Linked DNA regions of Homo sapiens: region 1 is linked to region 2. A link means that fine-mapping ties the variant in region 2 to the expression of a gene that starts in the linked region. Tissue or cell type: whole blood. Region 2 holds a variant in brackets; the other region holds the start of a gene. All regions are shown on one strand. Distances are between the middles of the regions.

Region 1 (2,670 bases), 57 kb after region 2:
ATAACTCTATAAAACCCTTCCTCGATCATCAACAAATCACTTATCTCTACTACCTTAATGCCTCCTGCACTTGTCCATACTAAACAGTATTTACACGTTAAAAGAGAAGTTCTACAAATGCTACTATTCTTCATAAATAGAAAAAAACTATAAATGAGGGCAAATTCCCATACGTGGAAAAATGCCAAACCAGAAGCTGAAATCATAACTTTTAGGTATAGAACCACAGCTCCAATCAGTCAACTACAAACGTCGCCGGTTACTTCGAGGGTAAATAATTTGCAGCCAGCTGGTAAAAAGCCTGATAAAAATATTAGGTCCTCACATATCTTCCTTTTCAATAAGGAGACACCTGAAAGTCACACTGGGCAGTCTGTCACGTATCGAAACATGCAGAAGAGAGACTGTACAGAACGTGCAGTTATCAAACGCAGGAAGCCAAAGTTCCTGTGCTATGAGAGGACCACAGTGAAAAACGGTAGCCCATCTGTCCAAAGAACAGAAAGAAGTCCACCTGGAAAGGATGGGAGTCGGCGGAGGGGGGCGAGAAGAACGAGTTCCACGCCGTCTTCCTCCTCCCGGGCTAACTGCAGCCGCGGGCGGCAGGAAGGCAGCCGCGCGGGGTGGGCTCTTGGGGACTGGGCGCAGGGCTCCGCGGCGCGGCTGGGCTGCGGCTGCCCGATCGGCGAGGGCCGGGCCCCGGGAAGTCTCCAGGGCCTCGCCCGCGCAGCCAGGAAAGCATGCAGCCCACCGACGGGCGGAGGAACCGCCCGGGCAAAGCCACGTCGGTGGCTGACCGCGCGGCAGGGAGGTGGGCACCCTGTCCACACCCACCAGGAGGCTGACAGCTGGCGAGCGCCAGGCGGCCGGGACGGGACAAGGGCCGCAGCGCGCCGGAGGGGGTCGCTCTGAGAAAGCCGCGCTGGGCGCTGCCCGTCGCCAACGACTCCCCCTCGCCCGGATCAGCGGCGGCTGGATACTCACGTAGGGCTGGTAGAACTTGGAGAGCCGCGGCTTCCCGTGGTTGTTGAAGATTAGGATCGCCTTGATCATGGCTGTGCCGGGCCGACCGGGTGGGCACTGGGGGCCAGGGCGGGGGCGGGCGCGCGAGCCTCGCCTCGTAATCTCGCCTGCGATCCTTCCCCACCCGCCCCCTCCCGCACGCGACCGCGCGCGCTCCCGAGCCGTCGGGCGGGGCCCAAGGGGCGGGGCCTGGGCGGGGCAGGCACTAAGGAAAGCGGAAACATTTCTAGGTCCGAGCCAGCGGCCTAACTGGAGTGTGCGCATTCGACCGAGCACAGACACGTTGCCCACCGCTCCTCTCCCGAGGTCTGTAGTCGCGGAGAAACACATGTTGCGTTACTAACGTTCAGAGGTCTGCGACAGCTTCGATTTGAATGACTAGCCGGGAACACCAAGTTTCACTGTGTAATTGCGTCCCCCTACTCCGGCGCCTCCTTTGCGACGCTCCCTGGAGAAAAGCACGCCCACTGCACGCGCTCAGTCGCTACTTCCGCTCTCGAGTGTCTCCAAGCAAGATGGCGGAGGAGCCGCAGTCTGTGTTGCAGCTTCCTACTTCAATTGCTGCTGGAGGGGAAGGACTTACGGATGTCTCCCCAGAAACAACCACCCCGGAGCCCCCGTCTTCCGCTGCAGTTTCCCCGGGAACAGAGGAACCTGCTGGCGACACCAAGAAAAAAAGTAACTGAATTTATTTCCGGGCAGAGAGGCGGGAGGTTCAGATTGCATCCGAGTAGGGGTGGCGGCCAGTAAAGAAGCAAAATTTAGAGGAGCGCCTGTCCTAGACCTGCATTTTGACCAGTCATCAGAAGAAAAGAAGTGTACTTTTTGATTTTTAAGGCCTTTAAGTTGAGTGTTAAAATACCATCTCTGTCTATCGGTGTAGGGCCTGATACTTGGCTGCCACACTTATTTTTATACTGTATTTTTTTGAGTTGGCCAGACTGCGAGCTCTTTGAAGGAGGGAGGGAGCTGAGTGGGGCGGGGGGAGGGGGGTCTCGGTAATTCCAGGTACTTAACACAGGAGCTAATTATTTGAGTAATGTTTTATGGTGGTAGGGGTGGTCATTGGCAAAGCCTGGATTAGAATTCATGCCTTCCAACTTAACTCGCTTTTGCTTTTTTCCCCCTCCCAGTTGGTTGTGAATTCACTCCTTAAACCAAAAACCAAATTCTTATGCAGAATGAAGACTGCTAAGGGAAAGCTAAAGGCATAGATGTTACCTTTTTAAGAAACACATTTTGGAACCTTTGTGAGTTATTTCATTGCTTGAGTCAGCTATCCTCAACCCTTTATTGCTTGAGAATGTTTCCCTTTGTAAAAGAGATTGCTAAAATTACGTGTTCTAAAGCACTCTGTTTAGAGTTAGAGTTGCCTATGGGAAAAGCAGCATATAAGCATCCTCGATTCAGAGAGGCTGATTTCGTCCTTAGACGTTTTCCCCGTTCTGTCTTAAGATGACAGTGGTCTCTGGCCGGGCGCGGTGGCTCACTCCTGTAATCCCAGCACTTTGGTAGGCTGAGGCGGGTGGATCACCTGAGGTCAAGAGTTCGAGACCAGCCTGGCCAACATGGTAAGACTCCATCTCTACTAAAAATATAAAAGTTAGATGGGTGTGGTGGCGCGCGCCTGTAATCCCAGCTACTCGG
Region 2 (2,848 bases):
TCACCTTCTTTAAAAGTTTTCAGTCTGAAAAACTCTTTTCAAGCCCAAGAAGACTTTTCCAAATCTTAAGTACTTTTAAAATCATTTTAAAATTTCAAGTGAGGCCAGGTGGTGGCTCACACCTGTAATCTCAATGCTTTGGGAGGCCAAGGCAGGAGGATCACTTGAGGTCAGGAGTTCAAGACCAGCCTGGGCAACACAGCAAGACCCCAGCCATACCAAAATAAATAAATTTTAAAATTATAAAATTTCAAGTGTTACTCTATCTTCTCCAGTAGTTCTTTTCCATGGAGCGTAATTTCTGATTGTTCAATCTGTTAATCTCTCTTGTTCAGATGGCAGTGCTTTCTTTCTATTGGCTTACTGTGCTCAGGGCTGGCTTCCAAGATGTTATTAATGGCTAGTAGCTCCTTTATTTGGTGAAAGTAAAAGGAGTCTCTCGTTCTGTGCCTGTGGTTAAAGACCAGGCTGTCCAAATCCTCAAGAGGGACCAGGTTGGAAGAAAGCACTCTGCTCTTAAGTCTTTATTCTCTCAGCCTCAAGGGTATGAAAGACACAGGCCTCCGATCAGATCTCTACCCTAATCACTTGTGGAGGCAAGTGGGGGAATGCAGAGAGGAGAATAGAGTATATTAACAGCTGTCATTCTCAAAGTCATACATCCTCCAAACCAAGCCCTGCACAGAATCTTTAGCTCTCTCATTTTGCCCTGGATTTTGATGCTTTCTTCCAATATGGGCAACAACACGGGGCCACCCAATTGGAGCCACACTATACAGGAAATGGGCAGATAACTCAGCAGCTCCCCCAGCAAATCCACAATAAACATATAGTGTAAGTAAGAAACAAACTGAATGATTCATATTTTAGGATTTTAGGGGTAATAACCACAGCATACCTTAGCTGTATGTGATAAAGGGTCTGACTCCATTTTTGATGTGTGTCTGCTCACAGCCTTCAAGTTCTACTAGTCCCCATTCCTCTTCTGCCCCATATCTGGGCAAGCTGTTAAGAAGGTCTGGATGCTCCTTCCTTTACACTAGTGGAAAGTTCAGACTACCTAAGACCTGGCCCACATGCAGAAATCCTCACACCCCATCCCCACCACCAAACCACCATAAAACCCAAGCCCCGTGTTGTTCTCTGTTTTCTCCAGAAAGCCTCATTATGTGAGTAATAAATCTTTTCCTATCCTCTTGGGGCACCTGTGACATTGTTAGTCTCTACATCCAAACCAATTGTGAGTAGGGGTGGGTCTGTCCCACTACTTCAGGGTGACTACACTAGCCTATGTGATTGATACAGTTATTAGCATGTAAAGATTTATAAAAAGAAACTAGTAACAACCACAATAAAAGAAAATGTGTGACAGTGGTTTACAGGTTGGGCAGCTGGCCACATAGAAACTGTTACATTGGAGGCTGGAAAGTTACTGATCCATGTTTGTAGTGGCAAAATACTTGGTACAATTATCATCTGTGATACCCTGAAAAGCAGATAAATTTACCCAATGAAAACTTTTTTTCTCTCTGACATAGAAACTAACAATGTTCTGGATAGTGGCAGCTTTGTTACCATGGATCCCAAAATGACAGCATGTGGAATATGATAAACATACTGCGTGAATGGGAAATAACCCTTTTTTGTTTTAAGTGGCTAACATTTCCATGTTCGCTACT[G/A]CAGCATAAATTAGCTCATCCTGACTGATAACAAAAGGGATATTCTCTACAACTTTCTCTTTTCATCTACTCAGTTGTGACCCAGAAGCAGTCTGAGGGTTGTGTGCAAACCTCCCTATGTCTTGCCTTTAAGAAAATGTGAGCTGTGGCCGGGCGTGGTGGCTCACACCTGCAATCCCAGCACTTTGGGAGGCCGAGGCAGGCAGATCACGAGGTCAGGAGATCGAGACCATCCTGGCTAACACCGTGAAATACCATCTCTACTAAAAAAATACAAAAAAATTAGCCAGGCGTGGTGGCGGGTGCCTGTAGTCCCAGCTACTCGGGAGGCTGAGGCAGGAGAATGGAGTGAACCTGGGAGGTGGAGCTTGCATTAAGCCGAGATCGCCACTACACTCCAGCCTGGGTGACAGAGCGAGACTCCATCTCAGAAAAAAAAAAGAAAATGTGAGCTGAGCCAGTCAGAAGATCCCTACTGCTGGAAGGTCCAGAGCTGCTTAAAAGTTGAAATTTAAAAAAATATATCTATATTTTTAAGTTGAAAATAATTTTCATCAAAGGGCTGAAAGCAAAGTTAGCATTGTCTTGGCGAATAGAAAGGAAACACTTATTTGATCTCTGTCTTTTGGTATCCTAAAACTTTTGTCTCCTTGCCTTGAAAAAATAAAACAAGATCTTAGCCCAGAGAAAAGAGAGACAGCTAATTTTGGCAGGTTCTAAAATAGTGATATAGTGTTGTGTAAAATGAACAGGCTAACACAAAATACATATTGTATGATCCCATCTTTATTGTTTTAAAGATGTATTTGTTTAAAGATTATTTGTTTTAAAGATGTAAAATCAAGTACTATACATATTCTAAAATGTTAACACTAGGCAATCTCTGGGATAGGGATGATTTTCACATATTTTTCTCTCTGTATTTTCTGATTTTTCTAAAATGAATGCATACTAATGAGAAATAGAAGTTTTAAAAACATTTTGTGTCATGTATGGAAGTTGCAGATGAGTACAGCTTAATTTCCTTAAAAACTTTTATTCTCTTTCTCTAGTAAAAAAAATATAAGAACCTTACTCTTACCATCACATTTCACAAGAGAGTCCTCAATTTTCTTAAAAGATGGTAAATGTATTTACATAAGCTAATGATGACCTCTCAGCAGTCATTT

What was found. PIP is the estimated chance that this variant, and not a neighbour inherited with it, causes the effect.
Region 1: it holds the start of AP3S1, and the variant in region 2 is fine-mapped to the expression of AP3S1 in whole blood (TOPMed, PIP above 0.99).

The regions. Positions count from the first base shown.
Region 1 is chr5:115,840,421-115,843,090 of GRCh38, reverse strand. It overlaps AP3S1 (adaptor related protein complex 3 subunit sigma 1), which reads right to left and starts at 1,156. Exons shown (of 6, transcript NM_001284.4): 1 at 985-1,156. The coding sequence starts at 1,053. ATG12 (autophagy related 12) reads left to right here and starts at 1,526. Exons shown (of 4, transcript NM_004707.4): 1 at 1,526-1,701. The coding sequence starts at 1,539. RefSeq lists enhancers at 310-519, 1,510-1,559, 1,570-1,869, 1,258-2,159, 2,163-2,663 and silencers at 610-799, 900-1,279.
Region 2 is chr5:115,896,840-115,899,687 of GRCh38, reverse strand. The region is part of intron 4 of AP3S1 (adaptor related protein complex 3 subunit sigma 1); the gene reads right to left. Among named protein-coding and RNA genes, the nearest start is that of AP3S1, 56 kb to the right of the region's middle. The variant G/A (reference allele first, on the strand shown) is at 1,680.